2 separate regions of the Homo sapiens genome follow, and region 2 is linked to region 1. Evidence: fine-mapped expression QTL. Tissue or cell type: whole blood. Region 1 holds a variant in brackets; the other region holds the start of a gene. All regions are shown on one strand. Distances are between the middles of the regions.

Region 1 (5,262 bases):
CATCCATGTTGTTTGTGTCAATGATAGGCTCTTTTTTACTGTTTATGTAGTGCTCCAGTGTGTGATCACAATGTATCAATTTTCTTGTTGATGAGACATCTAAGTTATTTCCCGTTGGGGCTATTAATAAATCTGCCATAAATATTCTTTTATACATGTCTTTTAAAAAGTAGGCATAGACACTAATTTCTTTTAGATATATACCTAGGAATGAAGCTGATAGGGCATACTGAAGGTGTATGTTTAGCTTTGGTAGATATTACTGGCTTTAAGTGGTTAAACCACATTATTTGTTTTTTTTTTTTTTTCTGTTTTTTTTTTTTTTTTGTGACAGAGTCTCGCTCTGTCACCCAGGCTGGAGTGCAGTGGCGCGATGTCGGCTCACTGCAACCTCTGCCTCCCAGGTTCAAGAGATTCTCCTGTCTCAGCCCCACGAGTAGCTGGGATTACAGGTGCCCACCACCCACGCCTGGCTAATTTTTGTATTTTTAGTAGAGATGGGGTTTCACCATGTTGGCCAGGCTGGTCTTGAACTCCTGACCTCAAGCAATCCACCTACCTTGGCCTCCCAAAGTGTTGGGATAACAGGCATGAGCCACCGTGCCCTGCCTGGTTAAGCCACATTCTTACCAGCAATGCATGAGGTATTTGTGTTTACAGGCATGTAGTAGTTATCTTATTGTGATTTTCATTTGCATTTCCCTGATGAGTAATGATGCTGAGCATACCTTATCGACCAGGCAGATATTCTGTGCCTGTTTGTGTCTTTTAGAAGGGCAGCGTCACTGAGTGAAATTTTTATGTGTTGCCATTTTCTTCCCCAGGTAAGTAGACACCATTAGTCATAGTAAGTGTCAGTGGAAAACATTAGAAAATAGTTTCCACACAGCACAAGTTGTGGAATTAAGAAATAAACCAGGGGCCGGGCACAGTGGCTCACGCCTGTCATTGCAGCACTCTGGGAGGCCGAGGCCAGTGGATCACCTGAGGTCAGGAGTTTGAGACCAGCCTGGCCAACACGGTGGAACCCTGTCTCTACTAAAAATAGAAAAAAATTAGCTGGGCGTGGTGGCACATGCCTGTAATGTAATCCCAGATACTTAGGAGGCCGAGGCAGGAGAACTGCTTGAGCCCGGGAGGCGGAGGTTGCAGTGAGCAGAGATGGCACCATTGCACTCCAGCCTGGGTGACAGAGCGAGACTTTGCCTCAAAAAAAAATAATAATAATAAACAAATATACTAAAATAAGTTAAATATTAATAAAGGTATATCATCACCCCTAGATGCATTAATAAAAGACCAAGATTAACCAATTATTTTCTAGTATGCCTGCTGAAAATTATTTATGTAATTCATTTTTCCTATGATTAAGACTCTGTATTTTTCTCTATCAAATTCCAGTTCTGAAACCTAAACATCCACATTTAAATATGGATATGCACTAAATGTCAATTATACCTCAGTAAAGCTCTGGGAATAAAGTAATGACTTCATGAATATCTAGTCTCACCTATTTTATCTAATGTGTCTTTGGTATATTCTAATATTTCAATTGTACAGATAAAAAACAAGATTATTCACCTGCCTTAGGAAAAGGGAATAGTTGATGTAAAAAATGTTTTGTTCCTGCACATCATATTAGGAGAAAATGTTTTGGTATAAAAATTCAACTTCTCTCTCTATATATACACACCATAATCTTTCAACTAGCTATATAGGAAGATAATTACAAGTAATAGTACTGTTGGCTTAACTCTGGGCAAAAAGAGAAGTCAATGGGAAGTTTTCATCTGCAAACTTTTTCTTTCTTTTTTTTTTTTATTTTTGAGATGGGGTCTCACTCCGTCGCCCAGGCTAGAGTGCAATGGCATGATCTCTGCTAACTGCAACTTCCGCCTCCCAGGTTCAAGCGATTCTCCTGCCTCAGCCTCCCAAGTAGCTGGGATTACAGGTATGCACCACCATGCCCAGCTAATTTATTTATTTTTGGTAGAGATGGGGTTTCACCATGTTGGCCAGGCTGGTCTCAAACTTCTGACCTCAAGCGATCTGCCCACTTCCGCCTTCTAAAGCGTTGGAATTACAGGCATGAGCCACTGCACGTGGCGGCAAGCTTTGTTTTCAAAGTTGTCAT[T/G]CTGGGTGCTGGGAATAGCCTGAGTAGGTAAAAGCCAGAAGCAGGGAGGCAGACTAATGCAATCATGCAGGCTAGAGGTAATCCGTTTGGAAAAGTGTGGTAGTAAAGCTGCTGTTAAGATGTTGGGAGGTTTTGCCAATAGATCTGCAGACAGGGCATGGGGTACCAGAGAAAGAAATGCCAAGGATCATGATGTGATTTTGGCCTGAGAAAATGCAAGGACGTATTTGCCAATAACTTAGTTGGGGAAGACTATAGAAGCAGGTTTCAGGTTAGGAGACTATCAGTTCAGTTTATGTTTGATATGTTCGTTATATAGTCAAGTAAAGATGATAAGCAGGCAGCAGGATAGGAGTCTCAAGTTCAGGGAAGATAATTTGTGAGTTTGCAGTATGTAAAGGTGAAGTTATGATGAAATCAGATGAGCTTACCAAGGAAGTGAGTGCAGCTAGAAAGGAGCAGAAATCCAAGACTTATCCCTGAGGCATTCTAATACACAAAGATGCAAGGAACTGGTTAAGGAATCTGGGAGTGAGCATAGGAAAGGGAGAATAGAAAATCTAATGTCCTAGAAGCCAAGTGAAAACAGTACAATGTCTCTAATACTGCAAATATGTATTCATATCACTGAATCTTAGAGCTTTTAGAGGCCTTGGCGATAACCTAATGGATTAAAAACACTGACACTTAAGAAGTTCAATAAATTGGTAAAAGTCACAAATCAAAAGAGTAACAGAGAAGATAAAAAGTAAGTCTATTCCACACTGCTTTATGTTAGAAAGTCTTGATCTATATGGAATATAGAATATATTGAAATACAGATCAAGAAACCAGATCCCAAGAGATGATCTACTGAGGGACAGGATTTACTCAGATATACTACTGGAATAGAAAAAAAAAACAAAACAAAACCTGTAACTCTAGTCTGTTCATCCAGTTACTAAGTAAACCACTGGCCATACACTAAATACTGTCATTCCTATTTGATTTTCTTTCAGGTACCTTTTTTTCTCCCCTTTCTTAACAAATCAATCACATAGCTTAGGCCGGGTGTGGTGGCTCATGCCTGTAATCCCAACACTTTGGGAGGCTGAGGCAGGTGGATCACCTGAGCTCAGGAGTTTGAGACCAGCCTGGCCAACATGGTGAAACCTCATCTCTACTAAAAATACAAAAATTAGCTGGGCATGATGGCGCACGCCTGTAGTCCCAGCTACTCGGGAGGCTAAGGCAGGAGAATCGCTTGAACCCGGTAGGCAGAGGTTGCAGTGAGCCAAGATCGTGCCACTGCACTCCAGCCTGGGTGACAAGAGTGAAACTCTGTCTCAAAAAAAAAACAAAAAACAAAAAACAAAAAACAAAAAAAAAACACCCAAAAAAACATAGCTTAAAAATTCTAGTACCAAAAATAATATATAATCTTTAGAAGATTAGGCAGCCAGGCTGGGCCCATTAAACACAGTTTTGGCTCCAAGTCTTCTTACCAACTGCTGTTCTATTTTGTTCTGTTATACCTTCTCTTGTAAAAGAGTAAAATCAGAAGGAAAGGTCATAATAGACACTCACTTAATTGATTTTTTCTAGTTTTATGGTTTTCTCCCACTCCAATTACTTTTCATACCTTTGGTCTTAGTTTTTCCATCTATAAAATCATGTGCTAAATAATTAACTATCATCTTTATCATTGTCAGACTACACAAAGCTTCCAGCCTGGGCAACAGGAACCCTGTCTCTAAAAAAAATACAAACATTAGCCAGGTGTGGTGGTATGCGCCTGTATTCCCAGCTACTTGGGAGGCTGAGGTGGTAGGACTACTTGGGCTTTAGAGGTCAAGGCTGCAGTGAGCTGTGATTGCGCCACTGCACTCCAGCCTGGGCAACAGGGCAAGACCCTGTCTCAAAACAAACAAACAAAAACAAAAGCAAAGCTCTATTCTAAGGGAATTACATAAAGTAACTTATTTAATCCTCTGAGCTCTATGAAGTGGGTATCAACCCATTTTGCAGATGAGGACACTAAGGCACACAGACTTTAGGTAATTTGCTCATAACCATGCAGCTTGGTAAACTGGAGAGCCAAGATGTGAACCTGGTGGCTCCAGAGTAGGAACTCTTAAAACATTTAATGCTGTGCAGAGCAAATCAGACAAAAAAAGTGAAAGCACAATACCGCTATCCAAATGAAGACATCACCTACAAAGGTGCTCCTTGTTAGAATTCATAAACCAAAATCTTAACTGTGCTCAATTAACACAACCTGCAACAATTTTGTAACTTACATTCCATCTAAGGGGGATATGACTACTTCAATACTTACTTTCTACTTTTTTAGTCTTTCACAAATATCTTCTTAAGATAGCAAAGAATCAAATTTACCAAAATAACAAATGAAATCCAAGGCTTTTCAAAGTGTAAAGCTAGCATCTAACATTATCTAACAAGTTTCTATTTAAATATGGATTGTGATCTCAATTATAATGCATTTTCAGTTATGCACTTAAGAGACTTTTAAAGTTACTGCCCAAACAAGATAAAGTATAATATATGTTTTGAGGCAATTACACATTTAACACTCTTACAGTCTTGGTATTCATATGAGAAGGAGAGAAGGTGAATTCAAAATCTCTTACCATTGATCTTTCAGGATATCCAAACAAATAGCCCCTGTGACGGAACTAATATTAGGATGCCATATTTTAGTGATAAACCGGACCTAGAATATAAAGCACACTTGAGTTTTTCAGTAACAGAAATAAAACAGTTTAAGTAGAACTACAAGAAAATGAAATCTTCAAACTAAAAAAAGAAAGGTCCCTATATCTATTACATCATTTTGCCTAGGTGAAAGAAGGGGTGTAGAAGACAAAGGATCCAGTAAGCTGAATGTTGTCACTAACATATGTTGTTTTCAAACTCTTTAATAAATGTTCCGCCTTTAAACAAACCCAACAATTACTAGGAGCTTACAATTTACCTAGAATAATGGTAGATGCTATGAGAATACAACAGAGAATAAAATCCATTTTGGTAAATAAAATAGTACATAAAATAAAAACATAAATAGTAAATGGCACTTTTCTTCATGTGAGGCAGGGTGCAGAATAGGTTTGAGGAAAAAAGTAAGTAAA
Region 2 (5,070 bases), 59 kb after region 1:
AGGCCAAATGATGCCTTTAAGTAAATCACATTTGTATGACACAAAATTCAAAAAATATCTATACCCCAGACACCCAACTCTCTACACAGAAAGCAATCAATTTTACCAATTTCTCATGAAACCTTTTACCCATACAGGCAAATACACACATGCCCTTCTTTTTGACACAAATGGCCTCTTCCACACTATTCTGCACCTTGCTTTTTCACATTTATCTTGTTGGCTGTATTTTAACACACTCTAAGAACGGCCACTTATAATCTCTCATAACCAGAATCCAGTAAGCGTCAGCTATCTTTACAAAGGCTCTTATAAGGCCACCCCAAAAAGTCCTTAAATCAACCAGTGTTCTTAGTAAACACAAGCATACAAACACATGAAATAAACTTCGGTAAAGTGCTGATTTACCAAAAAAGTGACATGATGAAACATTTATTTGATCAGCCATTCAAAAGACTGTATTTACACCCTTAAAAAGGAAACACATGGACTATACTACAAGTCTTCAATGAGTTGAAAATAACAATACACTTATAGAACTGGGGCTACTAAAATATCAAAAAATACTGGTGAAAATAAGCTATTTATTGGTTATATTTATTCCAAGATTAAATGATGTGACCCTTTCCTAAATGTTCTTTCCAACTTATTTTCCCAGAAGTTTCCTTCCATATTTATACAGGTACTGTTCTAAACAAAACAAAACAAAACAAACAAACAACAAAAACAACAAAAAACCTGTCTGTTTGCATTTCCTGTTTTCTTCTTCTGAAACACTTTTGATGCTTATCTGAAGTAAGGCTTCAACATCCCTTACGTATAAAGAGCAGTGTTTTTTTAATATGCATTACTAGAGAGCAATACAAGTATTTCTGGTAATCTTCAACTTAGTACTAAGAATACCACGGTGAAAAGTCAGCTCATAAAAAGCAAAGAGACCACATTAATTACCAGAGCAGTAACTTACTGTTTCTGTTACCGTAAGTAACAGAAAATAAAGCATTAAAAGTCTATTAAGTTTCAGGCTTGTACAACCTTATTAAACAAGAAATGTTTTCAGTTGTTGGCAACAACAACTGCTTTCATTAGGAGTATATATGTCAACTAACCTGGAATACATTTTCATATTAAATAAGTTAAAATTGCTGTTTCATTGTATCAGTACAGACACTTATGACTCTATTTCTGCATTGTACCACAAAATACAAAGTCATCCTTCCATTCAGAGTTTTGGCATATGAACAAACATAGAGGTCAGAGTTCATACACATGCTCTGTAAAACCGACCATGACTTATATACTACTTTCAATAAGTCTGTTGTCATTTTTGAATTTTAAATAATTTTTTCTCCATGTATACTCATCACATACTTAGAATGCTGAATTTCACAAATTATTATTGACACTATTAAAGTACTAACTGTAAAAGAAAAACACAAATAGCAATGATATATTCAATAATGGTATGTGAATCTTGAAAATAATCATTTTCTGTATTACTTTTTGTTTAATTCATGTGGGGAAGACAATCTGGCATTCTTGTTGATCTTGGTATGAGAAACTGTACTAATACTTGCATAATTTTGAGTCAAATTACTAGAGCACTGTGAATATCTTACATAAATAAACGTAGTACAAATGTATCTAAATTCTGCAGGACTTAAGAGCAACGGGAGGCAACTTTTTTGAAAATCTGTTAAGTCGTGATAAATCTCAATAAGGAGATGAAACAATGTATTAATCTGGTGAAATTTCACATTTTTAATAGGTCTGCTTTTCAAAAGTAAGAATCAAGTTAACTATGAGGGACATCATAATGAAGTTTCGTGGCACAACACGAGTCACAGAGGCACTGTCTTAAGACAGTCTCTCTGATCTGTAACTTGTAAACAATATTTTGAAATAAGCTACTCATACATTCCATTATTTGTTTCCTAACTAAAAATATTTACATGTCTTTAATACACCAAACACCTTGCCTTTGCCCACTCAAAAGATTGAGATGTCAATAAAGATGAGGCCTAGGAATTTGGGGGTTAAGTGGAAAAGAGATAATTATCTTATTTGGAATTAACTTGCTAACTCAGGTGAAAATTCCCTTACCCCTGCCACCAAATAAGACAGTATTCTATTATGTCTCCCTTTGACTCCTAACACCCAACTAAGAAGGACTAACTCTGAATGTCCTTCCTTTTTAATCAATACCTAAGGACTCACTGCTCCTTCCCCAAGAAAAGAACAGTGAAGGCCTGACAGGCAATAACCCCGAATACCCTCAAAAGTGTGGGCCTTCGAGCAGCACTGCTCTTGGGATCCAGTTACCACCTTTCCCCTTCCCCCAACCCACTTCCCGGGTTTTCTCAGGCTCGGCCTGCTCCCTCCCCACCCCACAGCCACATTTCCAGCTGCGGCCACCGCCTCGGGTTCTCTTGTGAGCTTCCATCCCTCCGAGGAGTTGCCCCCTGTCCATCACCTCCCCAAACCATGTTCCACCCCAGACCACCCGCCCGCGAGACCGTCCATCCTAGCGCTCTGGGAGGGGAGGGGAAGGCGGCGGAAGGAGGAGGGGAACACTGCTGCTTCCTCACAGGCAGAAGGGCGGCCGCAAGGAGGACCACCCAGGGACTACCGGGGATATCGGGGTCGCAGCTGGGAGGACCCTCCCGCCCCAGGCAGAGGTGGGGGATATCCGGGAGTTCATTTCTGACCTCCTCGCTCTTCAGCACCTCCTTGAACTCCCGCTTGATTCGCTGCACCGCGATGTTGGCCATGTCTCCGCCCGCAGCTGATTCGTACCCGCCTCCTCCGCCACCGCTACGACCACCGCCACCGCCGCCACCTCTTCCTCCACCGCCTCCTCCCTCGGCGATTCAGACCTGAGCACACGAACACTGCCACTACCACCCCGGCCGCCGCGCTCGCCTCAGTGTGGAATCACCTCCGCGCCCGGCCACCAAAATGGCGCCGGGTCGGCGCATGCGCACGACGTTGACCCGGCCGGGCGGCGCAGCCGCTCCCGTTGGAGCCCCCATACGCCCGAGCCACGAGCTCGCGTCTCGGCTGGGGCTGCGGCCGCGTGGCTCCGCCCTGCCGGCGTCTGGGGCCGCGAGGGTGCGGCTTCCAAGCTGGCCGGCCCTAGCCGGCCCCCCCGGCCCTTCCCGGCGCCTCCGCTCCTGTTTAAACCCGGGTGCTGTGGTCTGGGCTTCCAGCGCTGGCCTCTGACCGAAGGTTCGGGCGCAACCGAACGGGTTTCCGACGCCGCACTCGGCTGGAACGCCGCCCTGACTCAGCTAGACCCGGAACCCGGAGGCTGAACGCCGTGTCTAGCGCAGGAAAACGCTCTCCCGGATCTCGGTCCGGCCCATTTTCAGTTGGTGTAGCCCCAGAAAATCTACTGCAGTCGTTTTTGTTCTGCAACATTTATAGTACCACGATTATTCCCATCATCTCAGGTAGCACAGATTATTGAATTAAGGCTGGTTATTGTTGGATCAGATTGGGTTTGAGACAGGTACTCGGTGGAGAGGCCTGAGGGTGGGTTTAGAAGCCAGATGTTGCTCTTTGACCTATTTAATACCGAGCTTGACACACACACACAATCTCTCTCTCTCTCTCTCTCTCTCTCTCACACACACACACACACACACACACACACACTCCTATGCCCATCCCTAGAGTGTAGGGTGGGCCTAAGACTGCGCTTCTAACAAGTCTCCCAGTTGCTGCTGCTGTTGGTGCTGGTTCCGGGACCACATTATGAGAACCACTGAACTGAATGAAGCATGTGAAAATTCACATATATTAAAGTGAAAATTGGAGAAATGGAAACAATTACAGTACCCTTCAGGGGACTCGGGGTGGGGGAGGGGGAGCCTTATTTCTGTAAACCTAGGCCTCAAAGGTGCCTGGTGATAGTAGGCACTCAATAAATATTGAATGAGTAAATGAGTACAGATAAGACTAAAACGTTTTTGCTGGCGCGGCGGATCGCTTGAGGTCAGGAGTCCGAGACCAGTCTGGCCAACATGGTGAAACCCCATCTCTACTAAAAATACAAAAATCAGCCAGGTGTGGTGGCAGGCACCTGTAATCCCAGCTATTCTGGAGGCTGAGGCAGGAACATCGCTTGAACCTGGGGGTCGGAGGTTGCAGTGAGCGAGATCGCGCCACTGCACTCCAGCCTGGGCCACAGTGCAAGATTCTGTCTCAAACAAAACAAAACAAAACAAAAAGTATAAAATATTTTAAGTGGAAAGTAAGTTTGAAAGTGGTTTCTGGGCCAGGTGCGGTGGCTCACGCCTGTAATCCCAGCACTTTGGGAGGCGGAGGCGGGCGGATCACGAGGTCAGGAGATCAAGACCATCCTGGCTAACACGGTGAAACCCCGTCTCTACTAAAAAAATATAAAAAAAATAGCTGGGCGTGGTGGCGGGCGCCTGTAGTCCCAGCTACTCGGGAGGCTGAGGCAGGAGAATGGCGTGAACCCGGGAGGCGGAGCTTGCAGCGAGCGAGATTGCGCCACTGCACTCCAGTCTGGGCAACGGAGCGAGACTCCGTCTCAAAAAAAAACAAAAAACAAACAAACAAAAGAAAGTGGTTTCTGGTCGGGCGCGGTGGCTCACGCCTGTAATCCCAGCACTTTGGAAGGCCGAGGGGGAGCAGATCACTTGAGCCCAGGAGTTTGAGACCAACCTGGGCCCTATGGTGAAATCCTGTCTCTAAAGATAATAATTTTTAAAAAAGAAAGTGGTTTCTAAGGTGCATAGTAATAATGGTTTGGTACTGAGAAGCATTTTGAATAGAACATTTTGGAATAAGTAATAAGGGTGTCATTTCAGAAGTTTATACTTCATGCACTTTCTTCACCTAGCCAATCAGTAAAATATCTATTATAAAAATATCACAAATACATGGTTTTACCAAAAGTAATTAAAATTGTGGTGGCAAACATGGAAATAGCCAATGGAGGCGAATCAGTGGGGGCACAAGGCAAAAGAGAATTTCTTAAACTCCCGCCCCAGGAACCAAGAGGAGATTTTAAAATTCCAGTTCTCTCCCATGGCAGTTCTC

What was found. PIP is the estimated chance that this variant, and not a neighbour inherited with it, causes the effect.
Region 2: it holds the start of UBE2K, and the variant in region 1 is fine-mapped to the expression of UBE2K in whole blood (TOPMed, PIP above 0.99). The same link has a PIP of 0.9 or more in monocytes and tibial artery.

Annotation. Positions count from the first base shown.
Region 1 is chr4:39,755,242-39,760,503 of GRCh38, reverse strand. UBE2K (ubiquitin conjugating enzyme E2 K) reads right to left here. Exons shown (of 7, transcript NM_005339.5): 4 at 4,765-4,847. Among named protein-coding and RNA genes, the nearest start is that of UBE2K, 60 kb to the right of the region's middle. The variant T/G (reference allele first, on the strand shown) is at 2,135.
Region 2 is chr4:39,696,029-39,701,098 of GRCh38, reverse strand. It overlaps UBE2K (ubiquitin conjugating enzyme E2 K), which reads right to left and starts at 2,963. Exons shown (of 7, transcript NM_005339.5): 1 at 2,709-2,963. The coding sequence starts at 2,771. RefSeq lists a silencer at 2,980-3,269 and an enhancer at 3,350-3,409.